Homo sapiens: one gene and its partners. The protein of the gene in region 1 purifies or fractionates together with the protein of each later gene. This does not show direct contact. Each region holds a gene or a part of one and is shown on either strand. Other genes may lie near its edges.

Region 1 (3,500 bases):
GGGAGGGTGAGTCAGGAAAATCACTTGAAGCTGGAAGGTGGAGGTGACAATGAGCCAAGATGGGGCCACTGCACTCCAGCCTGGGCCACAGAGTGAGACTCCATTAAAAAAAAAAAAAAAAAAAAAAAATTTAAGTAACAACAAATTGGGATGTCAAAAGATAGTAAAATAAGTAATTTATTCGAGTGCCCTATAGTACATATGAATAAGGGAAATGACTACAACATTGATTCAGACTTGACACCTAGCCATATATAGAATTTCTTAAATTTTCTATTTGGTAGAAAAGGAAAAATATTTTTTAAGAATCCAATCACATACAAACTAAACTAAGATGCTAATCGTGTATGCCCTCAGGAAAACACAAAAATCTTCTCCATGTTAACACAATCCACACTGCCAAACTCTCCTTTCCACCAGCAAGCCATAAGCCCCTTCAGGCAGGTGTTAAGAGCCTGCCCTTTGTTTTAACTCAAGCACTGGCACAGTGCCTGAAATACAACACTCCTGTTTGTTGAATAAATACTGAACATTTACAAATAGAAACGAAATACTGTATTTTTATCAAAATGAAAAGAAGCGTGGAAGGGAACAGACACTTAAATATGGTACTTTCACAAATTTTGAGATGGAGTCTCACTCTGTTACTCAGGTTGGAGTGCAGTGGTGCAATCTCAGCTCACTGCAACCTCCACCTCCTGGGTTCAAGCAATTCTCCTGTCTCAGCCTCCCAAGCAGCTGGGATTACAGGCACCCACCACCACGCCCAGCTAATTTTTGTATTTACAGTTATATTTTTTTTATTTTTGTGTTTTTAGTAGAGACAAGGTTTCACCATGTTGGCCAGGCTGGTCTCGAACTCCTGATGTCAGGTGATCCACTCGCCTTGGCCTCCCAAAGTTCTGGGATTACAGGTGTGAGCCACTATACCTGGCCACTTTTACTAATTATTTTAAAACATTTTTATTTACAATTGAACATTTTCTTTTTTTTGAGATGGAATCTTGCTCTGTCACCCAGACTGAAGGGCAGTGGCGCAATCTTGGCTCACTGCAACCTCTGCCTCCTGGGTTCAAGTCATTCTCCTGCCTCAACCTCCCAAGTAGCTGGGATTACAAGCACCCGCCACCATGCCCGGCTACTTTTTGTATTTTTTAGTAGAGACAGGGTTTTGCCACGTTGGGCAGGCTGGTCTCAAACTCCTGACCTCAGGTGATCCGCCTGCCTCAGCCTCCCAAAGTGCTAGGATTACTACAGGTGTGCACCACCATGTCCAGCCTAAACATGAATGAACGTTTTCAAAAATATATTATTTTATTTTATTTCATTTACTTATTTATTTTGAGATAGGGTCTGGCTTTGTCACCGAGGCTGGAATGCAGTGGCACAATCTCGGCTCATTGCAACCTCTGCCTCCCGGGCTCAAGCCATCCTCTCACCTCAGCCTCCCGAGTAGCTGGGACTACAGGCATGTGCCATTATGCCTGTCTAATTTTTGTATTTTTTTGGTACAGCCAGAATTTCGTCACATTGCCCAGCCTAGTCTCAAACTCCTGGGCTCAAGCAATCCACCTTCCTCAGCCTCCCAAGGTGCTATGATTACAGGCATGAGCCACTGGGCCCAGCCAAAAAAATATATTTTAAAATATGAACAATTTTCAAACCTCACAAAAGCAGAGAACAATATTATTAATACCCATGTACCCATCACCCCAACCCAACAATTATCCAGATTGTGCCAGACCTGCTTCATCTATCTTATCTCCCTCCACCACATTTTTTGGTTTTTATCTGGTATCTGTTTAAAATAACAGACATTGCTGGGCACGGTGGCCCACGTCTGTAATCCCAGCACTTTGGGAGGCCGAGACGGGCGAATCACCTGAGATCACGAGTTCAAGACCAGCCTGGCTAACATGGTGAAAAACCGTTTCTACTAAAAATACAAAAAGTTAGCAGGCGTGGTGGCGCGCTCCTGTAATCCCAGCTACTCAGGAGACTGACGCAGAAGAATTGCTTGAACCCGGGAGGTGGAGGCTTCAGTGAGCTGAGATCACACCACTGCACTCCAGCTTGGGCAACGAGGGAAACTCCATCTCAAAATAAAATAAAATAAAATAAAATACCAGACATTTGCAAGTTTTCTCCCTCATTCCTCAGTCTCTATCACTAATAAAAAGTGGTCATTTTCTTACATAAACATAATGCCATTATCATCCCTAACAAAGTTACAATAACTCCTTGATATCATCTAATACCCATCCATATTCAGATTTCCCCCAATGTTTCAAAAATGACTTTCTACAATTGGTTTGAGTCAGGGTTTAAACAACACCAACATATTGTATTTGGTTACTACACATAAAATAATTTTAATCTGTCTACATCATCTGACAGCAAATATGAAAAGCTTAACAGACAAACCAAATAATTAATTTACATTTGTAGATTCTCTAGAATCAAACCTCACCTAATGCATTTGCCGCCCCTGCTATCTGTAGCAGTCTTCCTCCAAATCGTCACTATGGCTGATTTTTTCTAGTCATTGAAGTCACAGGTCAAATTACCACCTCTAAAAAGGCCCTCCCTAACCACTCAATCTACAGTAAAACCACTTCCATCCATGCCGTATCACATGGTCCTATTTTCCTCATGGCACTTACCACTACCTGAAACCATTCTGTTTATTATGTTCCCACACACAGAACAGAATGTCAGCTCCATGAAGGCAGAGTGCCTTCACTGAAGACCAGTGACTGTGCCTAGAACATGAGACATTCAATAAATGTATCTACGTAATAATGCAGTACCGCTCTTTAAAATGTAAGCTCAGCTAAGTATTTGGAGGCTTTTTTGTTGTTTTGTTTTTTTTCAAGATGGAGTCTTGCTCTGTCACCCAGGCTGGAGTGCAGATCTCAGCTCAGTGGAACCTCCACCTCCCGGGTTCAAGCAATTCTGCCTTACCCTCTTGAGCAGCCAGGATTACAGGCGCATGCCACCACCATGCCCAGCTAATTTTTGTATTTTTTTTTTAGTACAGACGGGGTTTCACCATGTTGGCCTGGCTGCTCTCGAACCCGACCTCATGATCTACCCGCCTCGGCTTCCCAAAGTGCTGGGATTACAGGTATGAGCAAGCGCACCCAGCCTCAGCTAAGTATTTGTCTTTAAATATTTGTAATTCACTCCTCATGTAATGATATAAATTGAGTACCTGTAGAAACCTGGGCCAGCTGTTACCAAGAATCTGTAGGATGTAGGAAAGAAACAAACAGAGGTATAAGACATTCAAATGTAATTGTGGACTTTTACTGAACAATAATTACAGGTTTCTGAAAGAAAAACAAATTATTCCAGATGATTTTTAAAATGTTACCAGGAGTAATAAAAAATTTCATTTTTAGTACCATCTGAAAGCTATTAAAGCTTCAGTAATTAATATCTACAATGGGACAACAATAGCAATAATATGTGGAACAACAATCATAGTTTTTTTGTTT
Region 2 (2,893 bases), on another chromosome or scaffold:
GTCTGGCACTGACTTCCAGGATGCGTCTAACCCTTGGGACCCCTATCCAGAGCCTCACTTGTGGCTGGGAACACTTGTGGCCGGAACGCCCCTGGTGGGAAGATCCATGCCACCCCTTCCCTAGGGCAGCGCCTTAAGGGCAGAGCCTTCTTGAGGAGCTTGGGGTCTTTGGGTAGGTCAGACACCCTCCACTCTGTGGGTTGTCTGTCCCTCCTTTGCCCCCATCCCTGCACCCACACTGCTCATGCATCTCTTGTGTTCCCCAGCACCCGACAGACGTGGACTACAGGGTCATGGCCACCTTCACCGAGTTCTACACCACGCTGCTGGGCTTTGTCAACTTCCGCCTTTACCAGTTGCTCAACCTCCACTATCCCCCGAAGGTAGGACCCCAGCCCAGTGCCTTCTGCTCGCCGTGCAGGGGCCACAGCCCTTCTCTGTCCACACAGAGGCGAGGGGCTGTGGCTGTCCTCTGCCTCCTGACCTTCCCTTTGCCTACTAGCTCGAGGGTCAGGCCCAAGCAGAGGCAAAGGCCGGTGAGGGCACCTACGCGTTGGACTCCGAGAGTTGTATGGAGGTGAGAGGCTCCAGGAGCATCATCCGGCATCTCCCAAGGGAGTGGTCTCTGTCCCCAACACCTCTGGGGGTCTGGTTCAGAGTGGGGGTGGTTATGGCTAGGTGGGTGGTCTCAGCCTGCCCTTGGAACCCACACCTGCTGATGCCCAGGACTGTCACTGCTGCCCCTCCCCACCCTGGCCACATGCCCGCATGAGGTCCCCCACTGCAAGCAGCCCCCTTCTCTCCTGTAGAAACTGGCAGCCCTCAGTGCCAGCCTGGCCCGCGTGGTGGTGCCTGCCACAGAGGAGGAGGCCGAGGTGGATGAGTTTCCCACCGATGGGGTGAGCACTGCACTGCCTTCTGGCAGGAGGGCTGGGAGGGGTCGTGTGGGGGGTTTCCCAGCTTAGGGACATTTGCATCCTATAATTAGGTGTTATTTGATGGTCAAAGCAACTGAGCAGAAGAATGGGCTGAATTGTCATCAGAGTTTACATAGGAGGCAACAGAGCTCAGGAGTGGGGCCTTGGAGTTTCCTTTGAAGGCAGGATCCAGGATCTAGAAGGAAGCTGGAGTGGACGTTATCTCCAGCCCTGGCCCTCCAGTGGGGGTGGGCAGCCCTGGTGGTGCGAGGCCTGGCCCCTTTCTCAACAGGAGATGTCAGCGCAGGAGGAAGACCGCAGGAAGGAGCTGGAGGCGCAGGAGAAGCACAAGAAGCTTTTTGAGGGCCTGAAGTTCTTCCTGAACCGAGAGGTGCCCCGTGAGGCCCTGGCCTTCATCATCAGGTAGGGAGGCTCAAGGGCCCGCTGACAGCATTGGTTCGGCCATGCTCTGGTCTGGGTCCTGCCCTGGTGCCCATCGGTAACATTGGGATGGTGTCAGTTTCCACTTCTTATGAAACAGTGTGTGGAAAGTGCTCGGCACCGCACTGAGCACATAGGAAGTGCTCAGCAGAGGGCGGAACTGCCGTCATTTTATTACTAGCTTAGCACAGAAGGATGGGCAGTGGGCAGATCTCTGCTGAGCCAGGATTGAAGGATCCTGGGGTGAGGAGGGGGTAATTGTGTCCTAAGAGGGTGAGTTTATGGGCTGGGTGGCCAGCAGGTCCCAGGGAGCTGAGTCTCAGGACAGGCAGCTCATGTCTGTGTACCCGTGTGGGCTCTCCCTGTCCCTGTAGGAGTTTTGGTGGGGAAGTGTCCTGGGACAAATCTTTGTGCATTGGGGCCACCTATGACGTCACAGACTCCCGCATCACCCATCAGATTGTCGACCGGCCTGGGCAGCAGACCTCAGTCATTGGCAGGTAGGCCCTCAAGGGTCCTCGTCCGGATTTCTGGGTATCCTGTCTCAAAGGCCCTGCGATGCAGCAGGACCCTGAGTTGCCCTCTGTGACTCGTTTTTGCCTGCCACTCTGCGCCAGGTGCTACGTGCAGCCCCAGTGGGTGTTTGACTCAGTGAACGCCAGGCTCCTTCTCCCCGTGGCAGAGTACTTCTCTGGGGTGCAGCTGCCCCCACACCTTTCACCCTTTGTGACCGAGAAGGAAGGAGATTACGTTCCACCTGAGAAGCTGAAGCTGCTGGCTCTGCAGCGGGGAGAGGACCCAGGTGAGCGGGATGGGACTGGGCTGGCCTTGACCCCTGGGCCCACGCTGGCTGTTTCCCTTAGCTGCCAAGGTGGAAAGCTCCAGGGAACAGGCAGTAGGAGCAGAAAGCCCTTTGAAGTCACCTGTAGAATAAGGCTTAGGAGAAGGGACATCTACCTCCTGGGGTCAGGTGTTATTTGACGTTCAGGATGACTGAGCAGAAGAACATGCTGCATTGTCATCAGAGTTTACATTGGAGGCGACAGAGCTCAGGACTGGGGGTCTTGGAATTTCCTCTGATGGCAGCTGGGCTGTGGGGAGGTGCAAGAGAGGGCCACAATTGGGACATCCCTGAACTGCCCATGGCTAAAGACGGCAGGGTCAGAGAGGATGGGGCCTGGGCCTGTTGTCACCCTGCCAGAGAGACAGTAGATTCCCAGGGCATTCAGAGGACATTGGCTTTCTCTAGGAAACCTGAATGAGTCAGAAGAGGAGGAGGAAGAGGACGACAACAACGAAGGTGATGGTGATGAAGAGGGAGAAAATGAGGAGGAGGAGGAAGATGCAGAGGCTGGTTCAGAAAAGGAGGAAGAGGCCCGGCTGGCAGCCCTGGAAGAGCAGAGGATGGAGGGGAAGGTAGGGGGAGCTGCAATGCGGGGCTTGGCCTGGGAAGCAGCCCTGCTTGGTGCCTGCTCTGGCCTAGAAGGTCAGGAGCCAGAGGACTGTGGAGGTCGGGAGAACCTGCCCCCATAAGC
Region 3 (3,500 bases), about 15 Mb from region 1:
AATGTTTTCCTTCTTTCTGTTTGATCATTTTATTTTTGTCATTTTCTTCCTTCTAACTTTTGTCATTATTCATTTTCTAGCTTCTTGAACTTATAATTCATTTATTTGCAATCTTTATTGTTTAATAATAATAACTTTTTTTTTTTTGAGAATCTCCCTCTGTCACCCAGGCTGGAGTGCAGTGGTAGATCTTGGCTCACTGCAACCTGTGCCTCCTGGGTTCAAGTGATTCTCCTGCCTCAGCCTCCCCAGTAGCTGAGACTACAGGTGCCCACCACCATGCCTGGCTAATTTTTTTTATTTTTAGTAGAGACGGGGTTTCCCCATGTTGACCAGGCTGGTCTCGAACTCCTGGCCTCAAGTGATCCACCCGCCTCAGTCTCCCAAAGTTCTGGGATTACAGGCGTGAGCTACAATGCCCTGCCTAATAATAACTCTTTTAAGGCATAAGTTCTCTGTATATGGTTTTGGCTGTATGCCATAACTTTGATAACTTCATTAGTGTTCTCATAGTCAATCATTTCTCAAATTTCATTTCAGTCTTTTCTTAAAAAGGTTCTCTTGCTTAAGGTCAAGAGTTCGAGATCAGCCTGGGCAACATAGCAAGACCTCATCTTTACAAAAAATAAAAAAAATTAGCCAGGCATGGTCGGTGGTACATGCTTGTAGTCCCAGTTATTTGGGAGGTTGAGGCAGGAGGGTTGCTTGAACCTAAGAATTTGAGCCTGCAGTGAGCTGTGATGGTGCCACTTCACTCCAACCAGAGCATCAGAACCGGACCCTGACTCGAAAAAAAAAAAAAAGAAATTTTTTTCTCTTGAAAAGTTTTAGAGAATAGTGTTTTCTAAAATTTTCAAGTGGTTTTGATGTTTGGTTTCTTGTTCTGTCACCCAGGCTGGAATGTGATGGTGCGATTTCATACTTGTTAATTTCTGCACTATGGCCAGTTTATACAGTTTGTATGAGTTCTACATCTAAGACTATATTGAGATTTTCTTAGCGGCCTAGGATATTCCTTGGACTCACATATTCCTAGCAATAATCCTTAGAGTTGAAAAGTTGTATTTGTTGTACACACATATATATACATACACAAATATATGTATATAATATATATGTGTATATATGCATATATCTATATGTATATATCCATATATATGTAAGTTCTAGTGCTTGTGTGTGTGTGTGTATCTCCACGCTATTGAAACTTTCTACCTTTCTTTCTTTTCTTTTTTTTTTTTTTTTTTTGATGGAGTCTTGCTCTGTCATCCAGGTTGGAGTGCAGTGGCATGATCTCGGCTCACTGCAACCTCCTCCTCCCGGGTTCAAGTGTTTCTCCTGCCTCAGCCTCCTGAGTAGCTGGGATTACAGGCGTGTGCCACCATGCCCGGCTAAGTTTTTTTTTTTTTTTTGTATTTTTAGTAGAGAAGGGGTTTCATTATGTTGGCCAGGATGGTCTTGATCTCCTGACCTTGTGATCCACCCGCCTCAGCCTCCCAAAGTGCTGGGATTACAGGCGTGAGCCAACATGTCTGGCCGAAACTTTCTACCTTTCCTTCCATTCTGTTTCACCAGTTCTCTAAATGATAATTACAGAGTGGTAACTTCCCCATCAAAACATATATATAGGCCAGATGTGGTGGCTTCCACCTGTAATCCCAACACTTTGGGAGGCCAAGGCCGGTGGATATTTTGAGCCCAGGAGTTTGAGGCCAGCCTGGGCAATATGGTGAAACCCCGTCTCTACAAAAAAATACAAAATTAGCTGGACATGGTGGCACATGCCTCTCGTCCCAGCTATTCGGGAGGTGGAGGTATTCCTCAGAGAGGATCACCTGAGCCTGTCCGTTCAAGGATGCAGTGAGCCATGATCACGCCACTGCACTCCAGCCTGGGTGACACAATGAGACTCTGTCTTAAAAAAAGAAAAAAAGTGGGCCAGGCGCAGTGGCTCACGCTTGTAATCCCAGCACTTTGGGAGGCTGAGGCAGGCGGATCATGAGGTCAGGAGTTCAATACCAGCCTCACCAACATGGTGAAACCTCGTCTCTATTAAAAATACAAAAATTAGCCGGGCGTGGTGGCGGGCGCCTGTAATCCCAGCTACTCGGGAGGCTGAGGTAGGAGAATTGCTTGAAACTGGAAGGCGGAGGTTGCAGTGAGCTGAGATTGTGCCACTGCACTCCAGCCTGGGCAACAAGAGTGAAACTCCATCTCAGAAAAAAAAAGTGTATACACACACCAACACACACATACATGCACACTCTAGAACCTATCTCATCTATCACCACAAAGAGTAGAATATAACTATTCTTCCAGAGAAAATAAAACATTTAGCACACTTTTATAGTTTTTCTTCTTCCCTCTTCCTTCTCACTTTCAGATTTAGTTGAAATAATGTGAACTTTTAGTTCCAGATTACTACCAAATTGTTAATTTTTTTTTCTTTTGTAAACATCCTTTCTGAACAGGTATTAAGCTTCATGGTCATATTACAACGCACTTGTTAGCCATACCTTATACTTTAATTGGTTTCATTGCTCATGATAAGTTTTCCTATAGCTTTTCTTCTCCTTTCTTGAATTATTTAAGGTGATTAATTTTCCATTTGGCAGGAATACTCCATCAAGTAATTAAAAAAATTATTCCAGAGTTTACTTTCTGAGACCTTAAGTGTCTTTACTTGTATGTCCTTCTTTTGCTGTCACATGTGAGGGAAAGTTGAGCTAGGTGTAAAATTCTGAGGTCATAATCACAGTGCTTTCACCTCAGAATATATAAACCTTGCTTCATAAATTTCTAGTCTCTGGTGTTGTAGATGAGAAGTCCACTAATGGTCTATTTTTTCTCTGTGAGTAATCTGTTTTTGTTTGTTAAGGATCTTTATTTATTTTTATTTATTTTACTTTTTAGAGATGGGGTCTCACTCTGTCACCCAGGTTGGAATGCAGTGGTGCAATCAGAGTTCACTGCAGCCTCAAACTCCTGGGCTCAAGCAATCCTCCCACCTTGACCTCCCAAGTAGCCAGGACTACAGGCACCTGCCACCGTGCCTGGCTAATAAATATAGTTGGATGGTTTTCATTTGTTTATTTGTTTGTTTAGAGATAAGTTCTTGCTCTGTTGCCCAGGCTGGTGTGCAGTGGTGTGATCATAGCTCACTGTAACCTCGAACTCCTAGACTCAAGAGGTCTGCTAGCCTTAGTCTCTGAGTAGCTAGGACTATAGGTGCCTGCCACCATGCCTGGCTAATTTTTAAAATTTTATGTAGAGATAGGGTCTCACTATATTGCCCAGGCTGGTCTAAACTCCTGGCTTCAAGTGATCCTCCTGCCTTAGCCGCCCAAAGCACTGGGATTACAGGCTTGAGCCCATGCCCAGCCTGCTAAAGATCTTTATATAATTTTTTCTTTTTTCAATAATCTTCTATCGCCATTGTTGATCTGAAAAACTCAAGTCTTTCTTCAGCTCTTCATCTCAGGGAAATTGTATTCTGCTTT
Region 4 (3,500 bases), on another chromosome or scaffold:
GGCTTATACATTTCACAAAATAATCACCCAACGAATCCAATTTTTCTATTAAAAACTCAAAAGCATTTTTAAAAAAGTGAAACCACAATTTACTAAAACTTGAATGCTTATGAACAAAATTTGTATCTATCCAAGTTTTAGGAGATTCAGAAGGCAAAAATACCTGGAATATAATTACTCTGTGGCTCAATTCCTGCTGGGAAGTTAGTGTTTTCTGGAATGGAGTGAGTATAGTCATCCAGAGGCGGAAGTTCTGTTAGGATCTCGGTGTGTCGGGGCACTAATACTGGAGGCAAAACTGAAAAAGTTCAAGAAATCCAAGTTAATGGCAAAGAGCAAAGGGGAGTGGGGGAACCTTTTTTAAAGTTTTCAACAAGAAGAGAAGTTGTAGCTTAATTTTTAAAGCTAGGGTCCACCTACTCGATATATACTAGTTACTGAGAAAATGACAAATCTGATTATGGCTCTAACTTAGGTAGTCTATTATCCAAATTTCCAAGTTCTAATTTATCTCAAACTTTTGGGAACAATGTGATCCTGGTAATATTATATTACCATAAAAGTTCATAAATCCCCATTGGAAAACTTAACATTGTCTTTATCTGTAAAATCAGATATAGGAAATTTTCCAAAAACGCAGCTACTGCTATATTTTTTAATAGTTTCAGGTAGACAGCTAACTAAATGAAAAGTCTTGTTACAAGCTTTACTAAACGGTGTACATACAAATGATGTCATTAAAGTACTTCTAAAAGCACTCCAAGTGCAAAATGCTTGAAAATGTTACTGCAGCAGGGACATGTAGAAGCACATCAGCATAGCGCTGAGCAGACTGCCAATCTACAGGATTTCCTGGATATGCACTTTCATGCCAAATCATATGCTATTCCAAGAAACAGATATGTTTTCTCATTAAAAATTTTTAAAAATAAAAAAATTTTAATTACCACCAAATAATATGCACAATTTAAGGTAATTTATTAGAATTTACACTAAAATTTTCCTGGGTCACAAGAGTACTTAAATATACTGAAGTTCAGGCATTTAATTCAAAACCAAGAAAAAAACTTGCAATATTCCTACCTGGTGTCTCAACTCTCTGATAGTGGTAAGGGTTTACACATACTTCATCCTTTTTAAGATTAAAAGCATATTCGCAGTTTTCAATTGCCTTGAGTTCATGATGACTGTGAAGATCAGGCCAGCGCCATAATCGGCAATATATAACATGTGGCAATCCTTTTCGATGGGATACCTGGAGACGACCATCAAGAGACCTGTTGGGAAGCAAGGGGAAAAGAAAGGAGGGAACTTTAAAAAAAAAAAAAAAAAAGTGCAGTCAAATGGGCTAAATTAGTACAATAAAAGCATAAAGAAAAGAATGACAGCCATTTAGTTAGTTTTAGTGAGAATCAAGAACAAAAATGTACTATTTAATGGATCTGATAAAAGTATGCAGCAGCACTAGCAGATGTTTCTTATAAATATGTCACATAAATGACTCAAATGCCAATGAAAGGCTAACAACTTGGGAAAAACTGATTTTTTAAAAAAGAGAGTTTATGCAGTTATACTTGAAAAACTTTGTCAACTTCTATGTTTAGTAAATCAAACTCATTTTAGAGATGCTTCTAAGGATATTAATTCTGGAGGTGACTGAAGAGTCAGAAAAGGAACTAGTGTGAAGAATGATAAATACCAACAATGATGTGATAGTAACTTCCTCAGACTACTGCAACTCTTTACCCAGTTGTGACTGTTTTGAGAACTGAGGTATATTTATGTAGTTCACAAATAAATGTGGATGGTGATGAATATGATGAGATGAAATGAACAAATACCATATACGCAAAAAAGAAAATGAAGTGATTAAAAAAAGTAACATAAAAATGAGTTAACCTACTGTTAATTGTGATATAAGGGGTTCATTAAGTATGTATTTATTAGTATAAAGATGAGATTCTGATAACAAGAAATTTAGCAAAACTCATCATGTATCTACTTAAAAATTAGGCCAACAACAGATTATAATCTGATCTCAAGCTAAAATAAATATATAGTTATCAAAATTATTATTCTTTAGGGGATACAGTAATTTAAAGAAGATTCAAACTAGAATTGCATTGATTAAAACATCAGCTGAAACATTTAATATATTTTTTATACTGGCAAGCAGATATTTTAAATGCTATGCCTTATTTTACATTAAGGAAACATCCTAGGCAAAATTATACTAAGCAACCCCATATAGGTCTTTCAAAATATACCCCCCTCCCACAAGATCTCTAAGATTCGACAGAGGGCAGAATATTCACCTGGTTTGTTCAGAGAAGCTGTAAAGGCCTGTTGTATCCCACTGATCTATCGTATTTGGTGTACTCAGTCCCCAAATTTCAGAGCAAGTGCTGTGCATAAATTGAAAAACAAAAAATTGATGTGAACATGGAAGCATGGTTATTCAAAATACCATGATGTAAAACATGGAGAATGTACAGAATACTTCCTTCACCCAGAAAATATACAATTGCTTCACTTTTTCACAGGCATGTAGTGCTGGTTACTATATTTTCTATATGAAGGAAGCCAATAAAATGGAACATGTGACTCCAGATAAGTCATGATTATGTTTTTAAAATGTGAACACCAACGCCCTCTAGCTCAATGAATCATACCTATAATGCCCTTACCACTTTCCTGTATTCAAAAGATCTAAAACCTCTGCCATCAGCTTTACTAAGTGCTTCATTTTATAATCCAGTTTTTTAAAAAATTATCTAAAAACAGATGTCAACTGATTTTTAATATAGAAAAAAATCCCAATAAAAATAGACATGCATCCACAGTTAAGATTTTCAGGTTATCTGGTCATGATATTTTTAAGTTTTACTGAAAATTATTTTGTTCTCATCTCTAGAATAAATAAAGAAATAGACTTTGAAGTCATTCTAATTTAGTATACCACCTTAAAAATTTTCTCCCACATTTCTCTCCAGAATATGGGCAGCTCAGAGATAATTCTCCCTTTTTCCCTACCTTTATTTCATTTCATAGTAACTTCTGGTCAGTGAGAGAAGGGAAAGAGAGCTTAAAAGGAAGTTTTGGAATGGAACTTTGACAGCCAATGTCTCAAGTACTAAGTTGTACTTTTCTGAAAAGTCCATTTCTTACATATTACAAAATCATCAAAACTTCAATGCGGATAAAGGAGTATTTCAAAACATCTTTTGAAAATGAATCAAGCAATTGATTAAATTTCATATTTACACATTGTTAGTGAGCTTAACTGGATCAACAGTTCAAAGGGCAATGGTGAGAAGCGCTGGCTTCCTGTGGCCAGGCAACAGAACCACCTGGCATCCTTGGCTTTAGTACTACAGGTGCTGTCACATAGCTATCAGGCTGCAGGAACACATCATGCCCTGCTTTGGGGGCTACAGTGACCCGACAGTTCAAAACAAAACCTGTTCTGAAATTTTCCAGCATCTCATTCAAGTATTTTA

The links. Proteins that work in one complex are often made in the same cells at the same time.
Region 2: the proteins of RNF111 (region 1) and PES1 purify together in Homo sapiens (co-immunoprecipitation; one large-scale study listed by IntAct). This does not show direct contact.
Region 3: the proteins of RNF111 (region 1) and PML purify together in Homo sapiens (affinity purification with western blotting; 2 studies listed by BioGRID, with this or other methods). This does not show direct contact.
Region 4: the proteins of RNF111 (region 1) and SMAD2 purify together in Homo sapiens (affinity purification with western blotting, with the first as the bait; 3 studies listed by BioGRID). This does not show direct contact.

What each region holds. Positions count from the first base shown.
Region 1 is NC_000015.10:58,990,663-58,994,162, reverse strand, and holds part of RNF111 (E3 ubiquitin-protein ligase Arkadia), read right to left. Parts: intron 3,248-3,500; exon of another isoform or gene 3,215-3,247; intron 1-3,214. UniProt on the Homo sapiens protein: E3 ubiquitin-protein ligase. Required for mesoderm patterning during embryonic development. Acts as an enhancer of the transcriptional responses of the SMAD2/SMAD3 effectors, which are activated downstream of BMP.
Region 2 is NC_000022.11:30,579,018-30,581,910, reverse strand, and holds part of PES1 (pescadillo homolog), read left to right. Parts: intron 1-266; coding exon 267-383; intron 384-502; coding exon 503-577; intron 578-809; coding exon 810-899; intron 900-1,209; coding exon 1,210-1,340; intron 1,341-1,732; coding exon 1,733-1,858; intron 1,859-1,975; coding exon 1,976-2,160; intron 2,161-2,607; coding exon 2,608-2,774; intron 2,775-2,893. UniProt on the Homo sapiens protein: Component of the PeBoW complex, which is required for maturation of 28S and 5.8S ribosomal RNAs and formation of the 60S ribosome.
Region 3 is NC_000015.10:74,001,216-74,004,715, forward strand, and holds part of PML (protein PML), read left to right. Parts: intron 1-3,500.
Region 4 is NC_000018.10:47,868,160-47,871,659, forward strand, and holds part of SMAD2 (mothers against decapentaplegic homolog 2), read right to left. Parts: intron 2,406-3,500; coding exon 2,316-2,405; intron 1,278-2,315; coding exon 1,084-1,277; intron 299-1,083; coding exon 164-298; intron 1-163. UniProt on the Homo sapiens protein: Receptor-regulated SMAD (R-SMAD) that is an intracellular signal transducer and transcriptional modulator activated by TGF-beta (transforming growth factor) and activin type 1 receptor kinases.